2 separate regions of the Homo sapiens genome follow, and region 2 is linked to region 1. Evidence: fine-mapped expression QTL. A gene starts in region 1. The other region holds a variant in brackets. All regions are shown on one strand. Distances are between the middles of the regions. Region 1 holds the start of GRIP1 (glutamate receptor interacting protein 1). Region 2 overlaps GRIP1 (glutamate receptor interacting protein 1).

Region 1 (5,383 bases):
ACAAGAGGAGAAAGAATGATTAGCCAGGGGTGAGAAGCTATGGTTCTTTCCTGTTCTTTACCACTTACTAGCTGAATGACTTTGATGAAAAACACCTTCTCTGAAACCAGTTTTCCTTTTCTGCATCAAAAACCTATAACAGAGTCGCTCCATGATACATTATGTGTGAAAGTGCCTTCTAATTCATTAAATTCTATGTAAACGTGGTACACTTGTATTACACCTTAGCAAAACTAATGTTTTAAAGAAACCCTGAAATAAGAATTATCATCTTAAGGGACTAGTCTGCCCTGAATCCAGCAAACCCATGTTTTCATGTATTGAGGTGTTTGTGTTTTTAAGAGGGGTAAACCTCTTGAACTAGCTCACTCACTCTTCTTCAGATCACATTGGGGCTTAATCAAATCTGTATTTTGTACAATTTTACCTGCCTTCTTTTTCCATAACCCCTACTTGGTGACCCTCACAGAGCATGTTGTAAAGTTTGAACTGTCTAGACAGCTGAGCCACCATAATTAACATGTTCATGACAGGTCCCAAAGACACATGCTTACATTGATCTGGTAGCCAAGAAATGTAGGTCACTCTGCCTTGTAGTAGCTCATGTTAGGAGCCTGTGGTCCACATTCCACCGGTTGCCTTGGCCATTTGAGACCTTCATCCTACAGATCGATACATTTTGAGATAGAAGGCTTGCATTGTTGGAAGGCATTTTACCAGTGCTAGAGTTCAGGATGGGAGGCTAAGCTTGCATTAGGCAAAGGGAGGACAAAGGGTTTAGGGCAAGAAGGTTGACCTGGGAGTGGCTCCCCAGGAAATCTCCAAGCATTAGCGAGGCCAGAAATGGAAGAAGATGGGAATACCTGGTGAATTCGTTCATTTTCTGGAAAAGAATTACTCCAGGAGGCTCCATTTCTGTAAGATTCCTGGGGCTGCACCTGGGCAGACTAATAGGATAGATATGGATTGGCAGCCACAGTATTCAAAGAGAGAAAAAACAATCCCCTAGTTTGGGCTCTCAGAAACCTTTCAAAGAGCTCCATGATGGGTTATTTCCCCTGCCAAAGAAATAGGACATTTTAGTAGTTCTGAAGACCTTTCTTGGGACCAGAGGATAGAGCTTTTAAAACAAAACAAAAAAAATAAGCATATTAGGAAAAGGGGAAAATATTTGATCATTTTAGTCATAAGGAAAAAGCAAATTGGATTTGAGTCTGCAAAATAGCAGAAGGCAAGAGATTCCTGTATGGTTTTGAGTTGTATTTGAATAGACTGGGCTGGGGTGGTGGTGTTCCACAGGCAAGATTCTACTAATAGTAATTGACAGCTGCGTATTCTGAGTGCCTGGATTTTAGGAAATATGTTAGATTTGGAGAAGAATCTTGGAAAGAGCTAACTGTAAGTATTTATCTCACTTTAGCTAGTAACTCAGTTCTCTAGTACTAAGGTATATTTCTATTTAAAGCAAAAAAATATCAAGGAGGCTAAACTATTTCTAGGGATAACCTAATAGAGATGAACATAATATGGGTTGAAATTCAAAGAAAGATTTATGCTAATCAGAACAATTATAAAAATTTGATTTTGCACTGCAGTCCATTTAATATAGTATTTTCTATTGATTAGTGGTTGCTTTAGCTAGACCATCCTTGGTAAAAGAATTCTGTTCTTTTCAAAAACCTTTAAAGTAGATGCTTATGATATTCAGATGTTTTTCACACACAAATTATTTTTCTATTGGACTCAAAATACAAAGCATATGCATTTCAATAGCAGTGGATTGAAATTGTTTGAGTTCATATTGAATTTATGAATGAAGAAAAGAAAGTTTTACCACTAAATTTGGAATGTTGGAAGTTATTTTAAAAACCAGCTTGAAAGTTTTTTCACAGCCTGAAGAGTAGAGAATAAAACTGTATGAATAATTCATAAAGTCCTAGAAATATTAATCAAGTAGTTTAGACAGTGATATATCTTTTCATTTTGACTAATTGATTTTTTTTTTCTTAAACTTCCTGGCCAACTGTCTAATTTTTTGTCCTGAATGTTTATGTTAACTCCTGTGGGAGAATTCTGGATTTTGATTAAAATTCCCTACCAAATGTTAGTTCGTATTGACTATATGGCGAGCAGGCTGCTGCTGGCAGATGAGGAGGTGTGCTCCGCCTTCTTATCACTTTGTGAATGGATTGTGAAGGGTTTGTTAATTTGCTCTTCACTCCATTGGAGCAGATACTCACAAATATCTGCTATGTCGCAAGACCGTTTTATTTGCATAATGAGAAGAATGGTTTGGGGGATGGTTGTTTGGGAAATAGTATAATAAAGTATATTAAAAATAGAAATACTTGGCCTTGTTTGCCTTTATTTCTGGTATCTTTAGAAACAGTCTTGACTGTGTTGCTTTCCAGCCAAGTCCTTTTTTGGAAGGGTGATTAAAGGGGCTGGGACTCCATCTGCCTGATTGTCTGCCTAGCCCTAACCCTTTCTTGTATTCCCTCTATAAACAGACACTGCCTTAACTCTCATAGGTTCAGGAAGTACCAAAGAGGTCTCTGTCCTAGAGCTGCTTCCCCGCTATAGGCAGAACTGTGATTCTTTCCTCAATCCCAAATATAAACGGCCCTCCCTCTTTTTCTTTCCTTTTTTTTTTTTTTTTTTTTGGTTGTTGTTTAAAGAACATAGTACATGACCCATGCATTTCTTCCTAAAGTAAGAGTGTAAGCATTTCACTTGCATTTCCCATTAAATGAGACATATAAAGGACACTGACTTGATGCTGAGAAGGAAAGGGGCTGATGGTGGCTGAACTGACTGGATACATCGCCTTTTGCCTTAAACAGAATGCACTGTTCAGTGCTTAGCGTTAGATTTATGGAATGGCTCCTCACACAGTGTCGTCCCTGCTTTGTACAATTTGGTGCTTTGTTGCTATCGAAACGGCATTACTTTCTAAGCCATTGTGATTGTGAAGGGGGAGGAGGCTGTGGCAGGCAGGGGTGGTAGTAGTAGTGAATGACACAGATTTGCCAGATGACATGTAGCGGACCTCTGCATCAGCCAAGAGGAATTAAGCTTTGTCACTCCCCACTGGGACTACCTTTCTCCTGGTATGTGCGCAAGGAATTCATATGCTGCTGCTGCTGCAGCCACCAGAGCAGAGAGCCTTGAGTACACTTTGCCACAGAAAGCAGTGAGCAAGAATGATAGCTGTCTCTTTTAAATGCCGTTGTCAAATTCTGAGGCGACTTACTAAAGGTATCGTGCTTTCCTTGTTATTCCCTCAGCGAGTCTGTTGCAGTATCCTATAAACACAGTTTAATGGTTTTTACTTTCAAATATGACTGCCTTTGCAATTTATTGTCAGGCAACAAAGAACTCAGTGAAATATGTATAGATACATATGTACAGGTAGACTCGGCTTTGCTTTCTGTCCTTACATCTCGGTTGTGTTCGTGCTGAAATTATGAAAGCAGCTTGTGTGATTTTTTTTTTAATGACTTCATTCTTTGCTGAAAAGAGAATGTGTTTGGGTCCGGTGCTGAAGTTATTGTGGGAAACCGTCATTTTGCATGCTGATTAACTGGCCAAAAGGAGTCAAGTGTGTGTTACTGTCCTTTCTATGATACATATACTAAATGCAGCTGGCAGATTCAGGACTCGCACAGCTGGTGGATCCACAGAATAATTGTTTGTTCTATGACTTTCCAACATCTTAAGAGCTTTTTCCCTGGACAGCTTTAATTTCTTTATGTGTTAGAATTGCATGTTCAGAAAAGTATGTAATTCCAAATGCTTTGGTCCTATGTAATACTAGAAGTTTATTTGAAAGTAAAAATCATTGCTCGGAATCTTATCATCAAGAATTACCAGCTTCAGATTGTCACTCTTAGAACTCTAAAATAGTAATTAAATTTCTCTGTAATATTTAAGGTATTATTTTATTTGAAACCATTCTGGATGTGCCATCTCGTTTACTTTGTGAGCATTCTATTGCAAAGTTAGTAAATGGATGCCTTAAAAATCCTGCCTTGTGTCCATATAGATATGTGAGCTCTCTTGCCTTATTTCCTTTAGATAGAACCTTCCTTAGAGAAAATTTATTATTTAAAAAAAAACTTCATTCTGAGTAAAAGTATTTAGTTGCAAATGCCTTTCTTTTTCAGCCTGTAATATAGAGTACTGTTGAGTAATTAATGGATATAATTATGTTCTAGAAGCTCTGAACCTATAAATATGTTAATGGATGCTATTTCTGTCAGTTTAGCTTGACATATCAGAATTCTTTGATCACCAGCAGTGCAGCTAAAAATGCAATTAATATTTTATCTGGCAGAAGAATGAGCACAAAGCAAATCATGAGAAATAGATCTTGAGTCAATAACAGGAAAGAGAATAAATACTGTAGACCAACTTACCGAATGCATTTGCAAGTTGTTTGGATAGCAGAGTGAGTCCTTTAAAAGGTACTTTGGGGGAAATGTAGGGAAGATTATACATTTTAAATTAGGCTATTAGCAGGAGGCTGTAAATTCTGTTTTGACTTTATCCTCTACAATTGGTACAGACGTACAATTTCTGTTTATAAATCATGACTAAGAGACTATCCTTTCTGTTACGGTTTTGGCTGAGACTTTTAAAGGCAGGCCCTTATTCTGAAAAGTTCTTTTCTGACCTGATTTTGGCATTTACTTATCTTGATGTTGAGAAGTTGATGGTCTTCTTACATCATAAACATGAAACAATCAGTATTTTCTATTCATCTGTATCAGTTCTTTTATAAGTACTACATACAAGGAAGAGAGTGAACCCAAGCAATTTATAGTTCTTACAAATATTTTTAACTTTCTCAGTTTTCTGAATTTTATGGAAGCATTGATCTCCTGCATTGAAAGGAGATTTAAGTGTTTACTAAGATAGTCGCTAAAAATCTAGATAATTGAGGAAAGTATTGATAACTGCTTTGGAGTTGCTACCTCACACTTTTTTCCAAAATCTTTATGTCTGCTCTATTTGGTATTTAACTTAAGACTGTCAGTTGATGATTAAAATAAAATCTCTTTGCAGAATCAATTTGCCATAATTGGGTTCTTCTTTGTGTTTAACTGGCTGTCCAAATACTTACAAGAATGCACCTGAGTAACACGGTACCTTGCCTTGCCATCTGCTTCAGTCTTGTCCAACAACGTTCAAGTTCCACCCATGCTTCTTGTTCCAAAGTGGATTCATTGAGTTCTAGCACCCCACCCATACTTGTGGTGCTGTTTTCTTAAGCTGTAATGATAAAACCAGGAAACATATGTAATTACAATATTAAAATGACCTTTCTTTTAGGGTCAGGAGTGTATTTGGGGACAGGGGTGGATATACACTTGAAGTTTCT
Region 2 (5,383 bases), 270 kb after region 1:
AAGAGACTCTGATGCATTTTTTTAGTGTGTCAATTGCATTTTTCAACTCCAGAATTTCTGCTGGATTTTTTAAAATTATTTTAATCTCTTTGTTGAATTTATCTGATAGGATTCTGAATTTATGATCTGTATTATCACACACTCAAAACTTTATTGTTTACTCAAAACAGTAATTTAGAATTCTCTGTATGAAAGGCCATACATCTCTATTTCTCTGTGATTGGTCTTTCGTGCCTTATTTAGTTCACTTGGTGAGGTCGTGTTTTCTCAGATGGTCTTGATGCTCATGGATGTTCATTGGTGTCTGAGAATTGAATTGTTAAGTATTTATTATAGTCTTTGCAGTCTGGGCTTGTTTGTACCTGTCCTTCTTGGGAAGGCTTTCTAAGTATTCGAAGGGGCTTGGGTGTTGTGATCTAAGTTTTTGGTCACTTCACCTGTATCTCCATTAGGGGGCACCCCAAGTCCAGTAACACTATGGCTCTTGCAGACTCAAAAATACTGCCTTGGTGGTCTTGGGTAAGATCCAGAAGAATCATCTGGATTACTAGGCAGAGACTCTTGTTCTCTTCCTTTTCTTCCAAACAGATATAGTCTCTCTCTCAGTGCTGAGCTGCCTGAAGCTGAGGGGTGGTGGGGTGACACAAGCACCCCTTGGTCACCACCACTGAGACTATGCTGGTTCAGACCTGAAGCCAACGTGGTACTAGGTCTCAACTATGGCTGCCAGTAAACCCTTACTGGCTACCACTAGGCCATGTTCACTCAAGGACCAAAGGCTCTACAATCAGCAGGTGGCAAAGCCAGCCAGGGTAGTATCCTTCTTTTCAGGGCAGTGAGCTCCCCCTGGCCCCTTGCAGGTCTAAAGATGCCATCTAGGAGCCTGGTCCTAGAGTCAAAAACCTTAGGAATCTACCTGGTGCTCTATTCTACTATAGCTGAGCTGGCACCCAAGACACAAGACAAAGTCCTTCCCATCCTTTCCTCAAGGAGAGAAGTCTCTCCCCCTGGCCACCACTGCTCCAGGCCCATGGCAAGTACTGCCTGGCTATTGCTGATGTTCACTCAAGACCCAAAGGCTCTTCAGTCAGCTTGTGGCGAATGCTGCCAGGGCCGGGACTCTTCTTTCAAGGCGATGGGCTCCCCTCTGTCCCAGAGCAGGTCCACAAACGTCCAAGAGCTAAGGCCTAGAATCAGGGAACCCAAGAGCCCACTTGGTACTCTACCCTACTGTTGCAGAGCTGGTACCTAAGCTTCAAGATAAAGTCCTTTTTACTATTCCTCTGCTTTTCTCAAGCAGAAACAGCCTCTCCCCATAGCCACCACAGCTGGGAATGTGCTGGGTCACACCTGAAGCCAGCACAACTCAGAGTCTCACCTAAGGCCCACAGCAAGTACTACCTGACTACTGCTGCTGATTTTATTTTTTTATTATATTTAATTTTATTTATTTTTTGAGACAGAGTCTCATTCTGTTGCCCAGGCTGGAGTGCAGTGGTGCAATCGGCTCACTGCAACCTGCACCTCCCAGGTTCAAGTGATTCTCCTGCCTCAGCCTCCCGAATAGCTGGGATTACAGGCGTGCACCACCACGCCTGGCTAACTTTTGTATTTTTAGTACAGACCGAGTTTCACCATGCTGGCCAGGATGGTCTTGAACTCCTGGTCTCAAGTGATCCACCCACCTCGGCCTCCCAAAGTGCTGGGATTACAGGCATGAGCCACCGCGCCCAGCCATGCTGCTGATTATTCAGGGCCCGAGGGATATTTAGTCAGCAGGTGAAAAATGCTGCCAGGACTGGGTCCTTCCCTTCAAGGCAGCAGGTTCCCTTGCAGCCCTGGGTGTGTCTAGAAATGTTATCCCGGGGCAAAGACCTAGAAAAGGGGCCTTAGGACTCTGCCCGGTGCCCTGTCGTACTATGGCTGAGCTGATATCCAAGTTGCAAGACAAAGTCTTCTTTACTCTCCCCTCTTCTCTACTCAGTTAGAGTGAAGGACTCTCTCTGGGAGTTGTGAGCTGTGCTGTGTAGGGCTAGGGGAGGGGTGTTGCAAGCACTCACTTAGCCACCCCAGCTGGTTTCTCACTAGGTCACATGCCCCCCAAGTCTACTGGCTCTGAGCTCAGCACAGCATCAGGGCTTGTCCAGGAATTGCTGTCTTTGTGGCTTTAAACTGTCTTGAGTTTATTTAGTACCCAAGAACACTTTAGCGTGCAGCAGTGAGGCGTGTTGGAACTCAAGTTCTGACCACCGGAATGG[G/A]TGATTCCCCTCTGCCTAGGGCTGATCTAAATGTTCCCTCCGTGGATATCAGCTGACTTCTGCCCAGTGTTGCTTTCCGCTGTGACAGGGTAGCACTGAGTTTCAATGCAGTCTCTCCCTCACTGTGTTCTCCCTCCCACAAGTGCACAGTTTTTCTCTCCATGCCATGTGGCTGCTGCAGAAGGAATGGGGGAGGGGCCGGCATCATCAGTTCAAGACTTTCTTTCCTACCCTCTTCAGTGCCTCTTTCAATGATATGAAGTTAAAACCAGGTACTGTGATTGCTCATCTGATTTTTGGTTCTTATAAAGGTGCTTTTCTGTATGGATAGTTGTTAAATTTGGTGTTCCTGCAAGGAGGATGATCAGTGGAGGCTTTTATTCAGCCACCTTGCTCCGCCTCCCTCCTGTTACCATTTTCTAGCTACAGGCAGGAGGTGGGGAGGGTCCCCAGAGAGTCTGGGGCATGCATTTTTAGAGGGTAACTTAAAAGAAGGGAAGGGAGAATGGATGCTGGGAGACAATTAGCAGTCTCTGGCACAGATATAATGCATAAAAGGCTGTTCTTACAAATCTGTGTATATATACATATACACACATAGAAACATATACATACTACATTCACATTATTTTTTTTGTTGTTTCATTATGGACCTTAAAATTTTTTTCAACAGACCTACCCTGGTCCACAGCCAGTTTTAGAGTCTCAGTGGCCACTTTCCAAATAAGAAGCTATGGATTCATCTATAAATTTTCATGCTACTCTGGCCATAGTGAGTTTCCAGATGCAAGTGGAAGTAGCAGAGGTGCAAGCCTTAGGCTTCCACTAACTCTATTACACCTTGCCTTCTGTCATTCTCTTAATGCTCTCCTAGTATCTGGACTACCAAGGATCAAAAGTAATACAACAATATGGAGAAAGACAAGGATACCTGGGTCTATGCAGACCCTCGCCCATTACCTCCCTTCCTAGGAATTGTATGCTTCCTGAGTGACACATATGTTCTTGTTTAATTGAAAAAAGTATAAGAAAAAATGTTTTTAATACTCTGCAATTTAATATCATGGCAGGCAACCCAAATAAGACTAGAAGAAGGGAGGGAGTTGTCAATGAAGTACAATTTAAAAACAGTTGAACCTCTTTTCCTCTAAAGACTACCATAATGCTGCATTATGCTTAATGCCTCTTTAAATGGCCTAGTTAAGTGCTCATCATTAGTCATGTGTTACTTTGCATTCACTAACAGAACTGGGACCCTGGAACTTGGGGATAAATTGCTCGCAATAGATAATATCCGGCTGGACAACTGTTCCATGGAAGATGCAGTTCAGATCCTCCAGCAATGTGAAGACCTGGTGAAGCTCAAAATCCGCAAAGATGAAGATAATTCAGGTATTGAGAGCATCCTTAGTTAAAACTGATTTTTCGAACTGCCCATCTGTCACCAAAGATATTAGATCTTGATGTTTTACATACAACAGCTGGCTAGTGATGTGGCAGCAGTGTTTCACAGCTAAAAGAGTCTTTAAATTTTGTGCTGAGAGTGTAGTACAAATTTTAAATAATGGTGCTTGTAAATGATATCATTAAGATATTTTCATTATAGAAAACATATTATAATTGCATGAAAATAATTTTTAAAGATGAAATCTAAATCATCATCTAATACAGTGAAACTGGTAGTTTTCTAGTTTTTATTGGTATTCATATGGCATAACTATAACCAAGTGAATGTTGCATTTTTTTACCTAATTTTACATTGTAAACATTTGATCGTTTTATAAACTCTTAATATCTATCATTTTTATTGACTGCCTGTGATTTACCTTTCTTCTCTTCTTAAATCACTATATTGCTTCCAATTGTTTCATTATTGTAAATAGTACTCTTATAGACATCTTTATGCATAGATATCTTTATCCAGCTTTTTTTTTCTTTTGAAATAAGAAAATATTCCTAGAAGCAGGATGGCTGAGTAAGAATACAAAGGAAATGTCTATGATTCCTGATGAGTCAGTCATGCCCCATGTTGCTTTTCAAAAGGGCTATACACATTTTTTAGGCCCTCCAATCAAACTTAGGAGGGCATAGAATCATATCTGAAGAGCTTGTTAAAACACAGATCCTGGCACCACCCCAGGTGGGACCTGAGATTCTGGATTCCTAATAAACACCCAGATGCTGCCACAGCTGTGGTGCAAGGAGCACACTTTGGGTAGCCCTGAAATAAGAGACATCTTATCTGATTATGATAAGAATATAGAGCCAATTGAAAAGTGTCCATTCACCAAAAGAGTCAGCTAATGTGGGGAATTACAGAATGTGATATGGATCCATAAAGTAAACGTTTAATTTACAATTTTGCCAATCTCGTGGGTAAAGTCAAGGCCTTTCCTATTAATATGGTTCTGCTGATTATACTTACAAGTCTTTTTGTTTGTTTGCCTAAACCGTATCCACAATATATATTTTATGATTTCCAGTTTTATTTTGGTTTGGTTTGGTTTTTAATGCAGTGAGACTTTAAAGAATTTATAGCAATCTGAATTCTTCCTCCACCTAGATTTTGGTTTTCCCCAATGTTGTAGAGTTTTTCCATTAGGTAATTAACAGTAGATGTTTTGTTTGTTTGTTTCTTGTTTTGTGTGGCACACCCAGGCTGGAGTGTGCCATGGAGTGCAGTGGCGCCAACTCTGCTCACTGCAACCTCCACCTCCCAGGTTCAAGCAATTCTTGTGCCTCAGCCTCCTGAGTAGCTGGAACTACTGGTGTGTGTCACCTTTCCTGGCTAATTGTTGTATTTTTAGTAGAGATGGAGTTTTGCCATGTTGGCCAGGCTGGTCTCAAACTCCTGACCTCAAGTGATCTGCCCACCTCGGCCTCCCAAAGTGCTGGGATTACAGGTGTGAGCCACTGCGCCTGGCCATAGATTTTTGCCTAACGAACCCTTATTGAATCTTTCCAAACCATTGGATTTTGTTTTCATAGAACAACTACATTCATATTTCATAGGTTATATAAGATTAATTAAATTACATAGTTAAAATAACAAGTACAGCTGGCATAAACGGGTTTAGGAATAAATATAATTGCCTCTAGATTTTGAAGTTTACAACTCAAGCAGG

What was found.
Region 2: its variant is fine-mapped to the expression of GRIP1 in whole blood (INTERVAL, PIP above 0.99).

What each region holds. Positions count from the first base shown.
Region 1 is chr12:66,676,725-66,682,107 of GRCh38, reverse strand. GRIP1 (glutamate receptor interacting protein 1) reads left to right here and starts at 3,032. Exons shown (of 25, transcript NM_001366722.1): 1 at 3,032-3,258. The coding sequence starts at 3,204.
Region 2 is chr12:66,404,550-66,409,932 of GRCh38, reverse strand. It overlaps GRIP1 (glutamate receptor interacting protein 1), which reads left to right. Exons shown (of 25, transcript NM_001366722.1): 16 at 3,505-3,650. Among named protein-coding and RNA genes, the nearest start is that of HELB, 100 kb to the right of the region's middle. RefSeq lists an enhancer at 1,608-2,108. The variant G/A (reference allele first, on the strand shown) is at 2,259.